Linked DNA regions of Homo sapiens. The protein of the gene in region 1 purifies or fractionates together with the protein of each later gene. This does not show direct contact. Each region holds a gene or a part of one and is shown in the gene's direction. Other genes may lie near its edges. The genes, in order: SYAP1, ATAD1, SCYL3 and TM9SF2.

What was found.
Region 2: the proteins of SYAP1 (region 1) and ATAD1 purify together in Homo sapiens (affinity purification with mass spectrometry; one large-scale study listed by BioGRID and IntAct). This does not show direct contact.
Region 3: the proteins of SYAP1 (region 1) and SCYL3 purify together in Homo sapiens (affinity purification with mass spectrometry; one large-scale study listed by BioGRID and IntAct). This does not show direct contact.
Region 4: the proteins of SYAP1 (region 1) and TM9SF2 purify together in Homo sapiens (affinity purification with mass spectrometry; one large-scale study listed by BioGRID and IntAct). This does not show direct contact.

Annotation. Positions count from the first base shown.
Region 1 is NC_000023.11:16,721,824-16,727,439, forward strand, and holds part of SYAP1 (synapse-associated protein 1), read left to right. Parts: intron 1-5,616.
Region 2 is NC_000010.11:87,779,124-87,784,739, reverse strand, and holds part of ATAD1 (outer mitochondrial transmembrane helix translocase), read left to right. Parts: intron 1-69; coding exon 70-270; intron 271-5,616. UniProt on the Homo sapiens protein: Outer mitochondrial translocase required to remove mislocalized tail-anchored transmembrane proteins on mitochondria.
Region 3 is NC_000001.11:169,861,646-169,867,261, reverse strand, and holds part of SCYL3 (protein-associating with the carboxyl-terminal domain of ezrin), read left to right. Parts: intron 1-288; coding exon 289-366; intron 367-2,753; coding exon 2,754-2,893; intron 2,894-4,464; coding exon 4,465-4,649; intron 4,650-5,616. UniProt on the Homo sapiens protein: May play a role in regulating cell adhesion/migration complexes in migrating cells.
Region 4 is NC_000013.11:99,506,713-99,512,328, forward strand, and holds part of TM9SF2 (transmembrane 9 superfamily member 2 precursor), read left to right. Parts: intron 1-5,616. UniProt on the Homo sapiens protein: In the intracellular compartments, may function as a channel or small molecule transporter.

The DNA of each region.
Region 1 (5,616 bases):
CGTGCCTGGCCCCTCTGAATATTTTCTAATAACTGCATTTTTCATATGGATGTGTACTTTGGAGCTAATGCTGCCATCTTTCTGCTCACCAGATTCTCTTTTGATATTTACGGAAGCTGAGGTTAGATGGAAGTACCCACAAACACACACACATTGTGAATTTAAAGCTTCAGAATAAATGAGAATTCTTTCTTTTCTGAAATTTATGTGATTTTAGAAAGTCGTAAAGGTTCTAGTTCATATACAAACTGTGAGAGACAAGAGAGATGATCAGATATTTTTTATTTCTACATATTGATCCTAAGAAGTATATTGTCTTTAAGAAGACCCATTTATGTTTTGAAAACTGGAATTAAACATCTGTGAGCCTGACTCCCAGAGTAGATTCATTTCTTAAGTCTTTTGAAATCTACATAAAATATCAGCCGGGTGCGGTGGCTCACGCCTATAATCCCAGCAGCTTTGGGAGGCCAAGGCAGGCAGATCACGAGGTCAGGAGATCGAGACCAGCCTGACCAACGTGGTGAAACCCTGTCCCTACTAAAAATACAAAAATTAGCTGGGCGTGGTGGTGCGCGCCTATAATCCCAGCTACTCAAGAGGCTGAGGCGGGAGAATCGCTTGAACCCGGGAGGCGGAGGTTGCAGTGAGCCGAGATCGCGCCACTGCACTCCAGTGTAGGTGACAAAGTGAGACTGCATCTCACAAAAAAAAAAAAAAAAATCTCCTGGGAGCCCCATTTGTTCTGCATATATTTGTTGAGTGCCTACCTTCAAGACTGGACACTAAATACTTCCTGGTTCCTGGTGACCTATTTATACATTCAGGCAACTCACCAGTTAGTGGTGGACACCCAGGCCTGCATTCCACTCCCTCACTCAAAACCAAACCTCCTGGTCTCCTGATTCTTGGCCCTCCCTCCTGATAAATTTACAACCTCCGATTGTCACTGTCTCCAAAGGAAGGAACAATTTATAGGAGAACTCACTTAAGAGCTCCTCCCTACCTCCCTCAAGGCCCCATGCCGTTAAGTTGGTTAGTTGGTTTTTGTTAAAGTCAACCAAATTAAAGCTTTGCCTCTACTCTTTCTGAAAAAAATAAATAAATAAAAAGAAAATCTGTACTTCTGAGAATGTTAAATATCTGAATCAGTCACACAGTTTACATCAGTGGGAGGATGGCCAAAGATGAGCTTTGTGATCTTTAGCTTTTTCTAAACCGCCCCTAAAACTATTCCATGCCTAGGAATGGGGAAAGGGCCACCTCCTCCTCCTTTGAAAAGTGCTATTAGTATTGCAGTGGACCTGTGTTAGACTGTCCTCCTTTTCTTCTGTAGGGAAAGTATATTTCAAGTTCCAGCTGCCTAACTTGCAAACTAAGAGGACTCCTAAAGTTAGAGTGTACAGAGGTGACTATGTACCTGCTTTGATGTGGGAGTAAAATATCTAATTGAGTTCTGATAACACACCCAGGTTTACAATGCACAGTCAATAGCTTGGATCCTAGGGCTTATGAACAATACTTTTTAAAATTGGGGATCTCGATTTGAAGAAGAAACTTAGGGACATTGCAGAAAATCTGAAAGGTCTTTTGCAGAAAAGAAGTCGTAGATGTTCCTTATGAGGATAGACCTGAGGCTGTGGGGTAGAAATGACTAGAGAAGTGAGAAGAATTTTCTGATTAGAGTTGAGTAACAGTAATTACTGGCTGCCCTTCTAAGTCCTGTGCTCCCTACCCCTGGAAGTGGGGCTACCTGGATAGGAAGGTCCATTCCCACACTAAGATGCTGAAATTCTAAAATTGTATGAAATATAGTATCTTTGAAAAATTAACCAACTACTTTATAAGAATATTAATTTCCTAAGACTTTGCCACTGTATGCTTATTCTCTTCCTATTCTTGCGGCAGGCCTTAAACTCTACCTTGCTCTGTGTTTACTTTAACAAATTTATGTTTTTTCTGACCTTTGAAGCTCTTCCTACTTTACTTTATTCTTACCATTCCTTTCAGTTCTTCAAGCCCTTGTCAACTTGCTCAACTGACCTGAGGCAGCGTGGGATTGGAGCATGAGCTTGGGATTTAGAGGCAGATAGCCTGTGTTTGAGTTCCCTACACTACTTACTGTCTTTATTGTTATATCATTTGCAAATTACAGAAAGTCCAGTGATCAGAGGCTTAATGAAAGAAACTTTATTTTTGTGTCAGGGAGTCCCCAAGAACCATCCCCAGGTTTGATGATTGGCTAGGAAGACTTATGGGACTCAGCATATAGTTGTATTCATGGCCGTGATGTATTGCAATGAAAGAGTACAAGAATAAAATCAGGAAAGGAAAAAGGCACATGGGGTGGAAGTCCAGGGGTAAGCAGGCACAGTAGAGTCACACAGGACGTGCTTAATTCCTCTAGCAAGGAGTTGTGACAACACGTGTGAGATGCTGTCTTCCAGGGAAGCTCATTAGAGACTCAGTGCCCAGGACTTTTACTGGGGACTGGTCGTATAGGTATCCTCTGCCTACCACATATCCAAATTCCAGACCCCACAAGGAAAGCGGGAGTTCAGCATAAACCACAATGAGGCATTCTTAGCAGTTTAAGAAATGGTGGGAGCCCTCCCGAAATCTAAGTTCCCGGACACCCAGCCAGTGGCCAACCTTGAAAGCAAGCCTTTCCAAGGACAGCAGTCTCAGGCCTGCCATGTTAATGCTTTTCTGCAGAGTCTCCAAGAAATGTGGGGATGGGAGGGAGGTCCCAGGGTCAGTTCCATGGCTCAACGATATGATCAGGGAACCAATCTCTTCCACGCTTCCTCTCCTTCATCCATAGTGAGTTGGTTTCCATCCTCAGGCTGATCACTTCAGGCTCACAAGACAGCAACTGCAGTAGAAAGGGAGGACGAGGACTCTCCCCATAGCTCCCTTTTTATTAAGAAAGAAAATGTTTCTGGATGCCGACTTGCAGGTGTCCCCTTAAATTTCTTGGGGTGGAGCTGTCACATGGCTTTTCTAAGCTTCACGGGACTCTCAGCAAGTATGTGGCAGAGATCCTGACAGAGGTAGTGCCATTACCTTCTTTGGTGTGGACTTGTCAAGATTCATTCTCTGGGGCTGGCCACATGGGCACGCATCAAAATTGGGGTGGTTTTAACAAGGCAGAAGAGATGGGCTACTGGCTGGGCAGCCAGCAAGATCTGCCCCTATCACATAGGACAAATCATTTTTCCTCTGTGAGCCTCAGCTTCCCTTTTTTTGAACTGGGCAGATTATTCCTTCTCCTTGTCCCAGGAAGGTTATGAGAATAAAACATGGCATAATTAAAATGAAGGTAAAATAACTACTTTAAATGTTAGCTGTCGGCCCCCACCTTCCAGCAGGTCGCTAAGTCGTATTCAGATACATTTGAATTTGACTTCCTTTTCTTTGGCGCTACTTCGTTTCAGACCCTCACTTTATGGACTGAAGTGGACATTGTACTCCTGTTACTTCCTGTTAACTCCTATCTTAGTTTCAGTTTTTTCCTAGACAGTTCATAAAAACTGTCTTTGGCCAGGTGCGGTGGCTTACAGTTGTCATCCCAAAACTTTGGGAGGCCAAGGCGGGTGGGTTGCTTGAGCCCAGGAGTTTGAGACCAGCCTGGACAACATAGTGAGACTCCATCTCTATAAAAAATAAAAATCAAAATAAAAACTGTCTTCAACGTGGTGTCAGCTGATCTCTTTGCAAAATTAATAAATCACTTCTTGTCTTTATGGACTTCTTCCCTGAAAATCTCTTGTCATGCTCTCCATCTCACTCCCAGGCCACTCTAATAACTCTCTGGAGACAGTTCTCCCTCCATGCTGCCACATCTGCTTAATGAATAATCTTGTTCCTCTTTTTGTCTTTGATTCTCTATTTATTTGTTTTGCTTTAGAGATGGACGTTCCTGGAGGGCAAGAACTTGTGCTTTCTCAGATATTCAGTGTGTTCAGTAAACTCCATCCATGGAGTCATTAAAATCTAAGGAATGCAATGATTATGCTAAAATACCAGTTTTTAAATGACAGTTCTCCCTTGGAATAAAAATCATTGTTTGAATTCAAAATATGTTTCTGAGGAAGGGATAAAAGGAATTTATTTCCAAAAGAACCCTCTTCTTTTGGAACTTTAGATTTGTTTCTCTGACTGCAAAGCATGGTTTTGTTCCTGGACCAAACTGAGGGTCAGGCTGCTATTTCTCGTGGCCCAATAACAAGATGCAGGTCAACTGGGAAGGAAGAGAGTTTTTATTTCTGTAAGTGGCTCCAGGGAGAAGGCCTGGAAATTATCACCAGACCAACGCAAAATTAGAAAGTTTTCCAGAGCTTATATACCTTCTAAGCTATACGTCTACGTGTTAAGTGTGCACTCATCTAAAGACATAAGTGATTAACTTCTTTTAATCTATAACTAAGGTCTGAGTCCTGAAGACCTTCCTCTGGAGCCTCAGTAAATTTACTTAATCTAACTGGGTCCAGGTGCTGAGGTGATTACCCTTATCTTGTCTCCTGCTAAATCATGGAGGTTTGGGGAGTTCCTTCAGACCCCCAATCAACTTGTTTGTGGAGGCCTGGGGAGTCTCTTCAGACCCCCCAGTAAAACTTACTTAATCGTGCTTTAAGGTTCAGGAAAGTCCTAGGCAAAACTCTTGGGCTTTTGTTACATCCCAGCCTTTGTATAAGGTCACTGGCTTTTAATATTTAACTTAACCACTCAGTCAGTACTGAAACAGTTGTGATGGAAGCCTATGTTAGTGAGTCCTGGCCTGCCGCAATCCCCACTGTCAATTTGCGCATGATTTCTATCATGCTTGTATATTTATTTATCATGAGAATCGTAGGGAGATGGGGCATCATAATCTTTCTGGCTACTTTTTGCTTAGAGGGGCTCATCATTATGGGGCACTGAATGCAGCACTGAAGTAGAAGAGGTCAACTTGTTCCCGGTAGCACTCTCTGTTTCAGAGGCTTAGAGGCAGCACCTGCTGAAACATAATAGTATGTAACAGCAACACATATAAATAGGTTACTGCTGTTTTCTTCTGAAGTTTAAGTTGTCTAGTCTTCAGTTCACAGGGCTTTAAGAAAGCACAGCTTAGGTTTCAGTGATTTCCAAATAGGAAAAATGGGGAAAAAGGAAAAGGAAAAGGAAAAATTGAAAACATTATTTTGAAGACCTGTGGCCAGAAAAATTAGAATTTAATCCAAACTGTGGAAAAAAATAAAAACTGAAAAACATCAGGCATAGAATTTAACAACAGGTATACTATAGTTTTTGAAACAAAATTTTTCTCTCTCTAGTTTCCTATTTTTATTAGAAGACAAATCATGGTAGGACCAATTTGCTTTATTGTACTTGGCCAGATTATTTGTATAAAGTGCAGCAAGAAAAATCATTTTCTTTTAAAATAAAATTTTTTTATTTAATATATATTTTAAAAATTAAAAAAAAAAAAACAGGCTTTGATGGAACTTTGTTCCATAGAAGGAATCTGAGATAAGACTTTTTTTTTTTTTTTTTTTGAGACAGAGTTTTGCTCTTGTTGCCCAGGCTGGAGTGCAATGGCATGATCTCGGCTCACTGCAACCTCCGCCTCCCGGG
Region 2 (5,616 bases), on another chromosome or scaffold:
TCTATTGATTATCATATAAATTGAAGCAAATATCCCCTTAAAGGTAATAAATAACATATTCATTTCCAGGTGTTCTTCTCTATGGGCCTCCAGGCTGTGGTAAAACGTTGATTGCCAAGGCCACAGCCAAAGAAGCAGGCTGTCGATTTATTAACCTTCAGCCTTCGACACTGACCGATAAGTGGTATGGAGAATCTCAGAAATTGGCTGCTGCTGTCTTCTCCCTTGCCATAAAGCTACAACCATCCATCATCTTTATAGATGAAATAGGTATGCTATGTTTTCTATATGAGTATTTTTAAAGGCCATTTTTAGAGATATTTAGATAACCAGATTTAGTTTTTAACATTTATTAGGCCATGTTAATAAAACAAAGAACATAACCAACATCATAATATGCTATGTATAATTTCTGTGTTGTAGAATGAACCATAGACTATATACTCCCCTACTTGATAGATAGGTTTTTCTGTCTTTTCTCTGTTACAAACAGTATGCAGTAGATATCCATGTACATGTTTTCTCATGTATATATGTTTGCCCGGGAAAGATACCTAGAAGTTGAATCATTTGGTTGTGTGATATATCTATCTTCAACCTCACTAGGATTACCAGTTCTTTAGTTATTATACCTATTTATGTTTTCCTGCTTGGTAGTAAACTTGGGCATCTTTTAGCATGTTGATTAGCCATTTGGGTTTTCTTATTTGTGAATTGTCAATATTTCTTTGGAGTTATTTGTAGTTTTCTTTTGTTGATGTTTATTATGATTACACCTATTTTCTAGTCTATCTTTTTTCTGATAGTTTTTTTTTTACAGTTTATTATTTGGCTATAGTCAGTATTTTTCCTTTGTGGTTTATACGTTTTGTATCTGGTTTACAAATACCTTCACTATCCCCATAAATGTTCTCTTTTTAAAAATTATATATAACATGAGATAGGAATCTAATTTCATTCTTTTCCAAAAAGACAGCAAACTAGACTATCCTTTGCTGTATGTCATGACTTTTATATTAATGGACTCTTGCTATATTATGGATCAATATTTTTGTTCTGTTCCTGGTACGATGTATATATAAATATATATAGTTATACTAATACAGTATTATTAGTATTGGATATATATTTATATAGCTTTATTACTGTAGTTTTGAATTATATTTTATTATTGTTAAATTTAGTATGATAGGCTATGTAAATATGTAGAGAGAAAAATAGATACAAATATGTAGTATAGCTTTGTTTTGGTTACTTGTTTGCTTTATGTATCTTTTCTCATCAATTTACTCCAGTTATTTTGGTGTTTTGGTGTGCATCTTGAACAGAGGAATATATAGCTAGTTTATTTTGTTTTTGTTTTTTTTTAAGACAGCATCTCACTCTGTTACCCAGGCTGGAATGCAGTGGCGTGATCATGGCTCACTGCAGCCTCAACCTCCCCAGGCTCAAGTGAACCTTCCACCTCAGCCTCCTGAGTAGCTGGGACCACAGGTGTGTGCTACCACACACCACTAATTTTTGTAGAGTCAGGGTTTCTCCATGTTGCCCAGGATGGTCTAAAACTCTTGGGGCCAAGCAATCTGCCCTGCCTTGGCCTCCCAAAGCATTGCGATTACAGGTGTGTCCACCACACCTGGCCTATTAGCTATATTGTCTAAAAATTTTAATCTAAGCTTCTCTTTAACTGGGAAGTGTGATTAGTTTGATTTTGTTATGATAGCTGAGATAATTCAGATTTCTTTTTTTTTTTTTCACGCTCTGTCATGGCTGGATTGCAGTGGCACAACCATGACTCACTGCAACCTTGACCTCCCCGGCTCAAGCGATCCTCCTGCCTCAACCTTTCAAGTAGCTGAGAATACAGGCGTGTACCACCATGCCCTGCTAATGTTTTAATTTTTTTGTAGAGACGAAGTCTCACTATGTTGCCTAGGTTGGTCCCCAACTCCTGGGGTCCAATGATCCTCCTGCCTCAGCCTCCTAAAGTGCTGGGATTATAACGCCTAGCTGATTTACTTCTGCTATATTATTTTTTGCTTTTAATTTACCAGTCTAGTAGACTTTTTTGCTTTATTCCCTTTTTCTTGCTACAGGTTTAGAAGTTATACGTTCTTTTACTTTAGTGAAACGTTTAGAATATCAACTTAAAAGTCAAGGGTAATCTCTACCTTCCTTCCAAATAATTCACAGAGAACTTAGAACTCTTAGGTAATAATAATATCTCATCTCTTACATGTTATTGTTAAACATTTTATTTTTCTTCTACCTTCGATATTAATTGCTATTTTATACTGGCATTGCTTGTTTAGTGCCACGTTTGCTAGGTTTTTTGCTCACCATTGCTTGTTTGATCTTGTCTTTTCTGGATTTAACTTTGTTTTTACTGAAGTCTTTCAAAGTTCTTTCAGCAAAGGTTGTACAAAGAGTAGATTCTTCCTGTGTGTGAACATGTGTTAATTCTACTTTCTCTCTTAAATGATACAGAATCACATTCAGCGTCTTAAAGCTACAATTCCACTGCATTCTAATCTTTTTAATCTTGTTGCTTTTGAGAATTCTCCTTATTGCCCTATATTTGTAAGTAATCTATCCTTTCTCTCTAGTTGCTGTTAGATTTTCATGTCATTCTGCTATTTAAGTATGGTTTTTTTCTAGGTCTGCATTTATTTTCATTTAGCCTGCTAAGCCACTTATCTGAGGATGTGTGACTTTCATTAATTCTGGAGGATTTCTCAGCCATTGTATATATTTGCATGTTGCAATGTTCCCATTAAAAAAAAAAACAATTCTCAGGCCAGGTGTGGTGGCTCACATCTGTAATCCCAGCACTTGGAGAGGCCAAGGCAGGAGGTTTCCTTGAGTCCAATAATTTGAGACCAGCCTGGACAACATGTAAGACCCCATATCTACAAAAAAAAATACAAAAATTAGCCGGGTGTGGTAACGCATGCCTCTAGTCCCAGCTACTTGGGAGGCTGAGGTGAGAGGATCACTTGAGCCCAGGAGATTGAGGATATTCAGTGAGCATAGGTCATGCCACTGCACTGCAGCCTGGGCAACAGAGCAAGACCCCATCTTCAAAAAAAAAATTCTTCATCTCTTCCATTTTGAGTCATTTCTACAGTTTGTCATTTAGTTCTGTACAGTATTTCATCAATTCTAAGACATACTGTTTTGTTTTTTACATTTTAACATCTTCGAAATTAGGATAGCATGTTACAATTGAGTTGGCAGCATTTTAAGTTTCTTGTTGGTACACAAAATAATGGTACAACTTAAAAATAATTCAATTTTTGAGTAGATTATAAAGGCAATTCTTTCCTTGGCTATATTTAATCTTTCAACTATTGGGTTTGTTTTTTGTTGATTATATTTGAACTTTAGAAGTTCTGTTTGGTTCTTTATAAAATGTTTCCCTTTTTTTACTGTAGCTTGTTATTTTAGAATTTCAATCCCTTTTATATCTTTAGAATTTTAAACATACTATTTTTGTGTAGTTTTTGAATTGCTCTTTTCTGAAATTCTAATTTTACTTTATGTTGACTTTTTTTTAATAGTGGTTTGTTTCCTTGTGTCATTTGTAACATTAGATGGCTTTAGGCTTGCTTTTATATGAGAATTCTTTTTTGCCTAAGAAGATCCAGAGTACTTTTTCTGTCCTCAGCTTAGAACTTCAGGGGTCTGATCGTTCAAAACCAATTTTAGATAATTTCTCAGTTTGTGTGTTCCCAGACTGAATGGTGGTACAAATTTAGACTTCATACCTGAAAGAGACTCCCCATGGTCCTAGTTTTTTGTGTAAGGAGGACATTTTTACCCCTCAGAGCCCAGGCAAAGATGGACAAGTTTCCTTGTACAGTGACGAGCAAAATTTTTTTTCTTGTCTACACTTTCTGTGAGTGTTAATCCTTCCAAGCATCTTGGCTTCAGCCTGTATGTAGATGTTAACAACAAAGCAGAACCTTTTGATGCTGTATATGTCTATATGCATACCTGCTGTGTATACAAACACAACAGACGGTAGCATAATCACATCAAGGTTTTCCAACTCTTATGTTCAGTTCCACTTTTTTCTGAACTCTGGGATTTTTTTTCTTTGTTTCTTGCAACCTCATATCTTCATTAACCTTTTCTAAAATACATTAATAGTCTTTATTTTTAATAATGGTTTTAAGTTTGCAGAATTGAGCAGAAATCATATAGAGAGTTCCCATATGCCCCCCAGATATATAGTTTCTCCTAGTATTAATACTAGCATGAGACATTTAATAATGAACCAGTATTGATACATTGTTATTAACCAAAGTCCATAGTTTAAGGTTCATTCTTTGTGTTGCACAGTTCTTTGGGCTTTGACAAAGCATAATGTTTTTTATTTATCATTACAGTCTCATACACAATAGTATCAAATATTTGTCCTTCCCTTTTCCTCCCAAACTGCTAGCATCCGCTGATCTTTTTTTACTGTCTCTATAGTTTTACCTTTTCTGTAATGTTACAGTTGGAGTCATACATTATGTAATCTTTTCAGACTGGCTTCTTTCCCTTAGCAATATGCATTTAAGTTTCCTCCACATCTTTTCATGATTTGATAGCTTATTTTTATTGCTAAATAATATTCTATTATGTAGATGTACCACAGTTAGTTTTTCCATTCGTCTATTAAAATGACACCTTGTTTTGGGCAATTAGGAGTAATGCTGCTGACAGCATCATGTGTAGGTTTTCCTGTGGACACAGGTTGCATCTCAACTGGGTGAAATACCTAAGAGTACCACAGCTTGATCACATGGTAAAACAGTGTTTAGTTTTGTAAGACACTAGCAAACTGTCTTCCAAAGTGGCTGTACCATTTTGCATTTCCACCAGCAATAACTGAGGTTCCTATTGGTATACATCTTCTCTAGCATTTGGTTTTATTAATTTTGGGGATTTTTAGCTATTGTAATAGATATATAGGTATCTAATAGTTTCCCATTTTTAAAATTTGCATTTTCGTAATGACATGATGTGGAACATTGTTTCATGTGCTTATTTGTCATCTGTGTATCTTTGTTGAGGTGTCTGTTCAAATGTTTTTCCCATTTTGAAACAATTGTAATATTTTTTATTGTTTGATTTTTTAATTTTTTATTGATACATAATAATTGTACATATGTATGAGGCACCTATGCAATGAGCAAATCAGGCTAATTGGAATATCCATCACCTCAAAGATTTATCATTTATTTGTGTTGGGAACAACAATTAGGTTATTATCTTATTGTTGAACTTTAAGAGTTCTTTTTATATTTTGGGTACAAGTCCTTTACCAGGTATGTGTTTGCAAATATTTTTTGCCAGTCTGTGGCTTGTCATTTCATTTCCTTAGCAGTATCTTTCACATAGCACGAATTTTATTTTATTTATTTTGTTTTATTTTATTTTATATATTTTTTGAGACAGAGTTTCACTCTTGTTGCCCAGGCTGGAGTGCAGTGGCACGACCTCAGCTCTCTGCAACCTCTGTCTCCTGGATTCAAGTGATTCTCCTGCCTCAGCCTCCCAAGTAGCTGGGATTATAGGCATTCGCCACCATGCCCAGCCAATTTTGTATTTTTAGTAGAGATGAGG
Region 3 (5,616 bases), on another chromosome or scaffold:
CAACCAACAGTTTGGAGGATTTTTCTGACTAAACCATAAAGCATGTTAGCATATGTGTGTTTAAACTTGTATCCTCGTCACAGATCTCTTTGCTATTAAAATATTAGATTTCAGAGGCGTGTTCCATAGTATTTGTCTCATAAGCTACTTAGTTGTAATAGAATCTTTAAATGGCAAAGGAGAATGTTTCTTGGTTGAAAATTATATTGATGTAGTCTGTGATTATGACCTCAATATTTAACATTCTCTAATCTGTTCTGCTGAATTCCTTCTCTTTTTGGCATTTAGAAATGATTTTCTGGAAGTTGTGAATTTCTTGAAAAGTTTAACATTGAAGAGTGAAGAGGAGAAAACGGAATTCTTTAAGTAAGTTCAGAAAATTAAGAATTTAAATTGAATAACTTGGATTAAGTCCATATAATCACTTTAGGTATTCTAGAGAAGATGAGTCATATATTTGGTTTATTTCACATTTATTGAACATTTCCTATGTGTCAGGCTTTCTGCTAGGCCCTGGTGGGGTAGATATTTCTGGTGAAAGAAATAGATACCCAGACTGATAATCCTTAAACAGAGAGGTGGGTACAGTAGAGCTTTTGGAAGGAGTCCTGAGAACACACAGGGCAGGAGGAGGTCGTTAGAGAAAAGGTATTCTAGGCAGAGGGGCAACATGAACAAATGCACAAAGACAAGACCTAGTGTGACTTGTGCAGGAACCGCAAACAGTTGAGTCCTGCTGGGGGACAAATTCCAAGACAAGGACAGGTAGGAGGTACACCTTGCATGTGGCAGTGAGGAGTGCTGATGTTATTTGTAAATAGGGGACTTCAGGCATTGAAGCCATCAAAGAGATGGAAGCAGGCTGTGAAACAGATTAATGTCCCTTTAGGTGGATCACTTTGTTCTCTATTGAGTGGGAAGGCTTAACTCATTTAAGATTTGGATTGGTTAGTGACTATGGTAGTCCAGGCAGTAAATATGAAGCCACACATAAGGGCATTAATGTCTCCAATGAAGAAGACACTAAGATAAACATTTAAAAAGATAAAGCTGAGAAGCCTTAGTGATTATCACCAAATGAAATAGAGAATATTGGAGGAGAGGACCTAATATGCAGGGAAAATTATGACTTCAGTGTTGGATATGTTGGTTTGAAGTATCTGTTGGACTTTAGATAGAGATATACATGGACCGTTGAACAGACAGGTCTGAAGCTTCAGAGAAGTCTTAAGCTGATGAGCTAGAGGGAAATATTAGGGTGTTATCAGCCTATAGTTGGTGATATTTTCACAGAGAAAGTGGGTAGCATGAAAAGGACAGTGAGCCCAAATTGTAATCCTGGGGCACCCGACCTTATAAGGGGGCTGGTGGGAAGGAGTGGCTGATGAATGAGAAGCAGGGGTTAGAGGAGACTCAGAGAGCTAGGAAGGCTATGATATTCCCAAAGGAGTAGGGAATTTCACGAAGGTAGGAGGAACGAACAGGTACCTGTTCATTTAGTAGTTAGGAAGACACTGGTAACTTTATCTTAGCAAGAGCTGTTCCAGCAGTGAGAGTGCATTGGGCTGAGAAGTGAACAGAAGGTGAGAAAGACACTGGAGAAAAACTTGGAGAGAAAATATTACTGAAGAAGCAAATGGGGTCAAGGAAGGATTTTGTAAGGGTGGAAGAGACCTGAGCATATTAATAGACGAGGGAAAGGAGCTAGCAGAAGAATGGAGGGAGCAGTTGAAGCTGCAATCAAGTTGGGGAGATGGTTGGTGCATTGTCCTGGAAGAGAGGGGAATGCTGGGGCAGTGGCTGGATGGGGGTGGCCTTAAGTAAGAGGAGGCCCTCGGATCCTTAATAACTAGAAGGGAGGTGGGAATGAGTATCAATGTAAACCTGTTTGCTGATAGCGGTGTAGGGGTTTGAAGGTGATAATGCATGTGACCTGTTTCCTAATAAAGTAGGAGGCAAGGATATCTGCTAAGGGTGATTGTATAATGGAGTAATATTACCATTAATACCTAATATCTGTATTTCTTAACAAAGTGCCTTTATATATGTTGTTTTAATTTATGGGGATAGTGACAAAAGCCTATGTTTTGTTAGTTATGGAAGCTTTCTACATTGTTTAAATTTGAGAAAGTGTCTTTTATTATCTACAAAGCCTGTCTTCTTAGGGTAAAAAGGAGGGCACTTTGACTATTAGTAAGGGGATAATTTGGTGGAAACATTTCCTGGTGTGAATTGGAGGTGTGCTGACTAGCTGGCTTTGCTCACACTTTCTGTATTTTTTTTTTTTTTTTTGAGACAGAATCTCACCCTGTCACCCAGGCTGGAGTGCAGTGACATGATCTCAGCTCACTGCAACCTCTGCCTCCCAGCTTCAAGCGATTGAACCTCAGCCTCCCATGCCTCAGCCCCGAGTAGCTGGGATTACAGGCGTCTGCCACCACGCCCGGCTAATTTTTGTACTTTTAGTAGAGATGGGGTTTCACCATGTTGGCCAAGCTGGTCTCAAACTCCTGACCTCAAGTGATCTGCCCGCCGCGGCCGCCCAAAGTGCTGGGATTACAGGTGTGAGCCACTGCACCCAGCCACGCATTTTTCTTAAGTACTTGGGGACCAATCTGTTCACCTTCTCTATCTCCATTTCAAATGCATCACTTTGATAGAAGTGAGAGAGAGGATGTGTGTAGGCTAAACTGTACAAGTAAGCTGATACAGTGTCATGACCAGTTTCCTGGGCTTTCCCTTTTTGTCCTCAGATTTCTGCTGGACAGAGTCAGCTGCTTGTCAGAGGAATTGATAGCTTCAAGGTTGGTGCCTCTTCTGCTTAATCAGTTGGTGTTTGCAGAGCCAGTGGCTGTTAAGAGTTTTCTTCCTTATCTGCTTGGCCCCAAAAAAGGTGAATGCTTTTTCAAAGTGTTATTGCTAGTTAAGAAGTTTGGTGATTATTAGTCCATATTTGAGCAGGATGAGATTACTGTGTGGTGTAGTTAATGTTTGGTTCTAAAAACGGAGAACAATTGTTGGCCCCTGATGTGATAACTTTAATTCAAACCTGGGTACCAGAGTTCACAGGATAAATGAAGCATCTTCCTAGAGAGTCCAATTTACTATAGTAAGTGTTATATCTGACTAGAATCTGAAATATACATTTGAAGTTTTAAGGTAAGGCATGCATCTTCAAAGAACTTTTACATTTATCATGAATCATTTAGGCCTGTGCCTCCTACCTTACCAAGAGCAACCCATTTATTTTCTATTTTCAGTGAAAAGCACTGAGATCATTTTACTTCCTGGGGCTTCAAGTTTTTTTTACGAATGTGAAATGAGGTTATTGCTTTGGAATTTTACAATTTTATAGCACTAGAGATGGTAACAACAGATGAGAGAATATAGTATTAATATGACACTAGAATTTTAAGTTACGTAGAATCCTGCTTTCAGAATTTATTTTCTTAAAGGGATCTCAGTCCAACAAAGCATTGTTACAGTTTAGAATTTCCTTATATCTCTACTTTGATACCATTCTCTTTAGCCATGAATTTTTCTTTATAGCTCTTACATCCTATTCCTCAGTAGGTCTTACATAGGGGTGTGCCTCTGAATCACCTATGTTGCTTTTTGAAAATTTGCCTCTTTGCTTGATCCATTGGTTCTAGAACAGAGAGCCAGGACATAGGTATACATATTTTTTAAAAGTTCCCAAATAATTCTCAATACATACCTGCCTGATAACCACTACCATAAATACTGGAAAAAGAGGAGTATCCAGCATCAAAGTCCCACTGTAGCATTTAACACCTGGTTTTGCAAATAAAACTACAACAATATCAGTATGTCACAAATCTAGTGTATGAAATTCCTCACTGATTAAACATAAATTTATAAAAAGTTACTCAGAATTCTGTTAAAATACAAGCTTTGTTGTACACTATGATCTCTAGTATTTCAAAAACTCTACAAGGTAAGTGTACTTAACATAATTAAGCGTTAAGTAATTTTCGGTCAAGAAAAGAACTTTGCTTTGGTTTGGAGCATTAGAATTTAGAAGAATACTGGCCGGGCGCGGTGGCTCACGCCTGTAATCCCAGCACTTTGGGACACCGAGGCAGGTGGATCACTAGGTCAGAAGTTTGAGACCAGCCTGGCCAACATGGTGAAACCCCATCTCTACTAAAAATACAAAAATTAGCCGGGCATGGTGGCGGGTGCCTGTAATCCCAGCTACTCGGGAGGCTGAGGCAGGAGAATTGCTTGAACCTGGGAGGAGGAGGTTGCAGTGAGCCGAGATCGCGCCACTGCACTCCAGCATGGGTGACAGAGTGAGACTCCATCTCAAAAAGAAAAAAAGAATTTAGAAGAGTACTTAGAATATGTGTAGTTTTGGGTTCAGTGTATGAATTATGCTTAATACTTTTCACTGAAATGAAAATTTGTTTTTTCATCTGTAACCTTTGATTTTTCGGGTAGATCATGCGCAGGGAGAAACTCCTTGCTTGCTCTCACCAGCCCTGTTCCAGTCACGGGTGATCCCCGTGCTTCTCCAGTTGTTTGAAGTTCATGAAGAGCATGTGCGGATGGTGCTGCTGTCTCACATCGAGGCCTACGTGGAGCACTTCACTCAGGAGCAGCTGAAGAAAGTCATCTTGCCACAGGTCAGAGGCCAAGTTTGCAGTGGGGTAGTCACAGAACCTGAGGGAAGAGTGCTGAAAGAAAGAGTTTTGGAGGTATTCAGATAATAGCTTAGAAAGCCTTCAGGCAGCAGTCTGTGGAATACAAAGTGCTGAAATTAAAATTGCATTTCCATTCCATTCACACAGGCAAATTGATTAAACTGACATATTTGGTCTTAACCTGGGAGAAACTATAATTGTTTGTTAATTTTGGGAGGGTAAATGAATAACAATAATGTATGGAGCACTTTGTGAACATAACATATAATTATCCATAATTATTATAAAGTAATTAAATTAGAACAGAGAGGAGCATGAGATGATTCTTATCAGTGGCTTTCAGCCTGTTGTTATCAGCCACTAGGGAACCTTATTATGATTTGCCCACCAAAGGGTTTTGTTAGTGAAACTAATGAAAGGTTTGTATTAGTTGCTTAGGCTGCCATAACAAATTATCACAAATTATAATGGCTTAAAGCAATACAAATTTATTTTTAGTTCTGGAGGCCAGAAGTCTAAAACCAGGGTGTCAACAGGACCCTGCTTCCTCTGAAGGCTGTAGGATGTGAAAGGGACTCCTCTTTACAAGCTTCTCGTAGCTCCCAGCAATCCTTGGTATTTCTTGGCTTGTGGCTGTATCATTCCAGTCTCTGCTTCTGTTGTCACGTGGCCTTCTTACCTCCTTGTCTGTCTTTACATGGCCTCTTAGAAAGACACCAGTCATTGAATTTATGGCCTACCCTAACCCAGTATGACCTCATCTAAAGGTCACATTCTGCATGGACATGAATTTTGGAGGGACACTATTCAACCTAGTATGAGGTTTTAAAAAAATTGTTTTAAAAGACTACAATCACATGGTGTCTTTCAAATAATTTTCCTATGAGATAGATTAACATTCTCTCTGCTTTCAAGGAGCTCATAAGTGGGACATGTTTCAGTCATCCGT
Region 4 (5,616 bases), on another chromosome or scaffold:
TCTGAAACAAATCACAGATATATGTTCCACACCTCACACCCCCAACACAAACACACAGACACACATCGGCACTACAGAGATTGGTCTGTGCACTGTCAGCCTTAGAGCCCAGCTGCCCAAACCCTTACTTCCCTATTCTCTCCTGTAGCTTCCTGTCACCATGGTCTCTCAGTAAGTTTTGTAGTTAATTTTAGCTGCTTTACATGTATCCAACAATTTCATTCTATTTTCATTAAAATTAACTATCTATGAAAGGCTTTGGAGGAAATTTGTGAATTTTTTCTCTTTTTGCTCCTCTTCTCACTTTTCAAACCTGTTTATTGCCCTTTGCTAATAATAATGGTAAAGACTACGATTTGTGTGTGTTGTATATGCCTTAGCTAAATTTCATAACATCTCTGTGATATTTAGATGAGGAAACAGAAGCTCAATAAGATTTAGTAGCTGTCTCAAGTGTACAAAGCTAGTAAGTATTAAAGCCAGAATGCAAACAAGCCCAAGACTGAGTCCAAAAAGCCTAGGCTCTTCGCCACTGCCTTCTACTCTGAGCACTCTTCTTCTTGTTTGCCTTTCCCCTGGGGATCCCTGACCGCTTATCACCCTGGACTTTGACAGTTCCAGAAAACACTCTGTATCTATTATATGTAATTTTCATTTTATTTTATTTTTTAGAAACAGTCTTGCTCTGTCACCCAGGCTAGAGTGCAGTGGTGCAGTCATAACTCATTGCAGCTTTGATGTGTCTGTGTAATTTTTAAGTAGTCAGGTTTTATATTTACTTCTTTCGTTGATATAGTCTAAAATTGAAATTGTATTTTTCAGGGCTTTGGGGAAAGAACCCTGGTAATTATCTAGGAGATCAGTTGCTGGGCATTGCTGATCGGATAACTCAGAGCTCATAAATAAGCATTTGTGAGTCCCAGCATTGCTTTTGAGACTTTTATTGTGCCTGAGTTAAGACTTCCCTTCTTCAGGAAGGCGCCACTGTGGACTGCTCTAATATTAAGGAGTTGAAGCTTCCATAGATTTCCTTTTTTATGGCCTCCATATCTCAAACCCTTTTGTGACTTGTCATTTGCCATGACCCTTGTACAGTCACATCTCTTCACTGAAATTTCTTTCTCCCTTGAAAATCCAGTTGTAAGTGTGGGGTGGGACAGATGTGATGATAGCAGAATAAGGTGGGAATAAAAGCAGAAACGAACTAGGAAATGGGAAAAAGTGTAGTCCTGTGGCATGGCCCGTGTGCCTTGTTAAAACAAAAAAATAGACTAGTTGTGACCATAGCTGGGATCAGGTATGGAACTGGCAGATTAGGACTAGAAATAAAATTGTACATTTAGGAGAGAAATTTAAAAGGAAGACTGTAGAGTTCTAAATAAAACCACTTCTATAAAACATTTCATAGTACAGGATTGTAATCAGTCTTGCTTTCTCTAAGTGACATAGGATTCTGCAACTTCCTTAAAATGTTTCATGTTGTCAAAATTTTGCATGCTTGAAATAACCTAGGTGGGGACAGTTTGAAAGTGGGAATGTGAAGCAAGTAAACCTTGAAGTTCTTTCTAGTCACATCAGTGATAATCTAGAGTCATCTGTCTCTATTTAAGGCAAATTTCTGGGAGGAGATGGACTTAACTCTTTTGGATGGTGAATAAAGATGTTTAGAGTGGGAAAAAAAAGGCAAACAAAACACACACACACACACACACACACACACACACACACACACCCCAGAGATTCAGTAGCTACTCCAAGAACATATAAATAAGTGCTGTCATTTTTTTTTTAATATATGCTGTATTAGGCTGTTCTTGTGTTGCTGTAAAGAAATACCTGAGACTGGGTAATTTATAAAGAAAAGATGTTTAATTGGCCCACAGTTCTGCAGGCTGTACAAGCATGGCACGGACATCGCTCGACTTCTAGTGGGAACCTCAGGAAATTTTTACTCATGGCAGAAGGTGAAGCAGGAGCAGGCATGTCACATGGTAAAAGCAGGAGTGAAAGAGTTTTCTGTTGAGCGAGATGCCACACTTTACAACAAGCAGATCTCACAAGGACTCACTCACCATCATGAGGGCAGCACCAAGGGAGTGGTGCCAACCCATTCATTAGACATCTACCCCCATGATCTAGTCACCTCCCACCAGGCCCTACCTCCAGCATTAGGGATTACAGCTTGACATAAGATTTGAGTGGGGAAAAATACTCAAATCTCATGTCCTTCTTATATTGCAAAATACAATCATGCCTTCCTAATAGTCTCCCAAAATCTTAACTGACTGCAGCATTAATTCAAAAGTCCCAAGCCCAAGTCTCATTTGAGACAAGGAAAGTCCCTTCTACCTATGAGCCTGTAAAATAAAAAAGCAAAAACAAGTTACTTACTTCCAAGACACAAAGGGGCTATAGGCATTGGGTAAATATTCCCAGGCCTTGGGCAGCTCCACCATTGTAGCTTTACAAGGTTCAACCCCCACAGCTGTTCTCACAGGTTGTTCAGTGCCTGTAGCTTTTCCAGGCACAGGGTGTAAGCTGCCAATGAATCTACTATTCTGGAGTCTGGAGGACAATGTCCCCCTTCTCACAGCTCCACTAGGCAGTACCCTGGCGGGGACTCTGAATGGGGCTCCAACACCACATTTCCCCTCCACACTGCCCTACTAAAGGTGCTTTGTGGGGGCTCCATCCCTGCAGCAGGCTTCTACCTGGGCACCCAGGTTTTCTCATCCTCTGAAATCTAGGCAGAGGCTGCCAAGCATTCTTCGCTCTTGAACTCTGTGTGCCTGCAGGCTTAACACCACATGGAAGCCACCAAGACTTACGGCTTGCATTCTGTAAATGGCAGCCCAAGCTGTACCTCAGCCTCTTTGAGCCATGGCTGGAGCTGGAGTGGCCTGAATGCTGGGATCCCAAGGCTGCACAGGGCAGTGGGGCCCTGGGTCTGACCTATAAACCCATTCAGTCCTCCTGGGCCTCTGGGCCTGTGGTGGGAGGGGCTGCTGCAAAGGTCTCTGAAATACCTTTGAAGCCTTTTCCCCGTAGTCTTGGATATTAGCACTTGGCTCCCTTTTAGTTATGCAGATATCTGTAGCATGCGGTTGCCCCACAGCCTGCTTGAATTTCTCTCCAGAAAAAACTTTTTTTTTCTTTGCCACATGGTTAGGCTGCAAATTTTCTGAATGTTTGTGCTCTGCTTCCTGTTTAAATATAAATTCCAGCTTTAAATCATTTATTTGACCCTTCAGCTAAGATAGGCTGTTAGAAGCAGCCAGGTTACCTCTTGAATACTTTGCTGCTTAAAAATTTCTTCTACCATATATACTAGGTTGTCACTCTTTAGTGCAGAGTTCCACAGATCCCTAGGGCATGAATAGAATGCAAGTCAAGCTCTTTGCTGAGACGTAACACGTGTGACCTTTGCACAAGTTCCCAGTAACCTTCTCATTTCCATCTCAGACCTCAGCAGCCTGACTTTACTGTCCATATCACTATCAATGTTTTGGTCACAACCATTTAAACAGTCTCTTAAGAAGTTCCAAACTTTGCCTCATCTTCCTATCTTCTTCTGAGCCCTCCAAACTCTGCCTGTTTCCCAGTTCCAAAACCAGTTCCACATTTTCAGGTATCTTTATAACAACACCCCATCCTCGGCACCAATTTTCTTTGTTAGGCTCTTCTTGCATTGCTATAAAGAAATACCTGAGACTGGGTAATTTATAAAGAAAAGAGGTTTAATTGGCTCACGATTCTGCAGGCTGTACAAGCATGCACCGACATCACTCTGCTTCTGGGGAGGCCTCAGGAAGCTTTTACTCATGGCAGGAGATGAAGCAGGAGCAGGCGTGTCATATGGTTACACAGGAGCAAGAGAGAGTGGGGGCAGGTGCCACACTTTACAAACAACCAGATCTCACAAGAACTCATTATCAGGAGGACAGCACCAAGAGAGATGGTGCTAAACCATTCATTAGAAATTCACCCTCATGATCCAGTCACCTCCCAGCAAGCTCCACCTCCAACACTGGAGAATACAATTTGACATGAGATTTAGACAAGGACATATATTCAAACACATGCGTTGTGTTTCCATCTGGATTATAAATTCTTTGAAGGCAAGTGTTCATGAATTTGTATTATTTTGTCATCCAAAATGTCTAGTATAGGACTTTGTGGGCATTAAATACATGTATTGGCTGATTGAGTTTCTCGTGGTCTTCAGGATCTGTTGTTGTAAATGTTCTTTGGTTTTCAAATATATTGCAAATTCTACTATTTTTTTCCTATTTAATAAATTGGCTTCTCCTGAGATCATCGTTCCTGCTCCTGGAACACTTTTCCACCCTAAATTTTACTTTTTAAATCTTTCTTATTGTTTTTGTTTGCCTTCTGTTGCTTTACAGTGAGACTAAGGTCTACTCTCAACTTCAAAGCCCTTTTTCTGGCTTTTAATTGTGACAGTTTTCAAAATTCAAAAAGTTGAAAGAGTAGTGTAATGATCACCTTTCACTCACCTAGACCACCTAGAATCAACAGTTGTTTACATTTTTTCATACTTGTCTTATTTGTGTGTATTTATGTTTTATAGGGGTGAATGTCATGACATCTGTGGCATACTTTCACATGGTTCAGCTTGAAGCTCTTTATTGAACTATATAAACTCCCCGGCAGTCTCATTTCCTTTCTTCCAATTTTTAACAATTGTTCCACTGACATATTAGGAGGATCTCATTCTTATGACACTTTTGAAATTTCTTTGTCTTGCTGCAAGAGTTGATATTTAGAGTTATTGCAAATGTAGCATATTTACAAATATATTGTAAATGGCTGTATTCTATATTCTGTGTTAAGGTTGACTTTAATTTTAATTGACTTCACATTCCTCAGCATGTGTGAGATGGTAATTCTTGAAATTTCAGATCCTCACAATTTAGAAAAGGAAGAATAAAAGTGCTGTGAAAGCTAAGATGAACTGAATATTCAAGCTGTGTTTGATTACTTTGCTGAACATCAAAAATAGGTCCATAATTTAGTGTTGATATCTATGATAGACTTTCTTACAAAAGTAGTGTGGAAAGGTGTCAGAAGAGACAAGAAGGAAGAAAAGTAGAGGAATAAAAGCATCAGAAATAAAAAGTTACGGTAGCAACAGTTGAGTTTACCTACTTTGTTTCTGCAGTCCAGCTTTTTAACTTGTTTCCTCGTGTTAAAGAAGCAAGGAATCCCTAGTTCATGAGGCTACTATCAGAATTGTGCGTGATAGTTATTATCTTCCTTTTCCCTAGACTAGTGGCCAGGACAAGTATAATGGATAGGCATTAATAAGGTTCAGAAGGCTGACTGTCTTAGTGTCCTTTAAAAACACTGGAATAGCCTAGTTGCACTACTTGGATGGATGGGAGACGAGAGGAAGGAAGAGCCTTTCACAGAAACCCTTATGCTGATAAACCTTTATTCAGACTCAGGAATGGCAGTTTCTTTAAGATAATAGATTACAGCTGCTATGTTTATTATTTGTTATAGTTATTGTGTGCCAATTATGGACCAGCTTCTGCGTGTACTGTTTTCTATTTTATTATGATATCATTCAGTTCCCACATTCAAAATTATTAC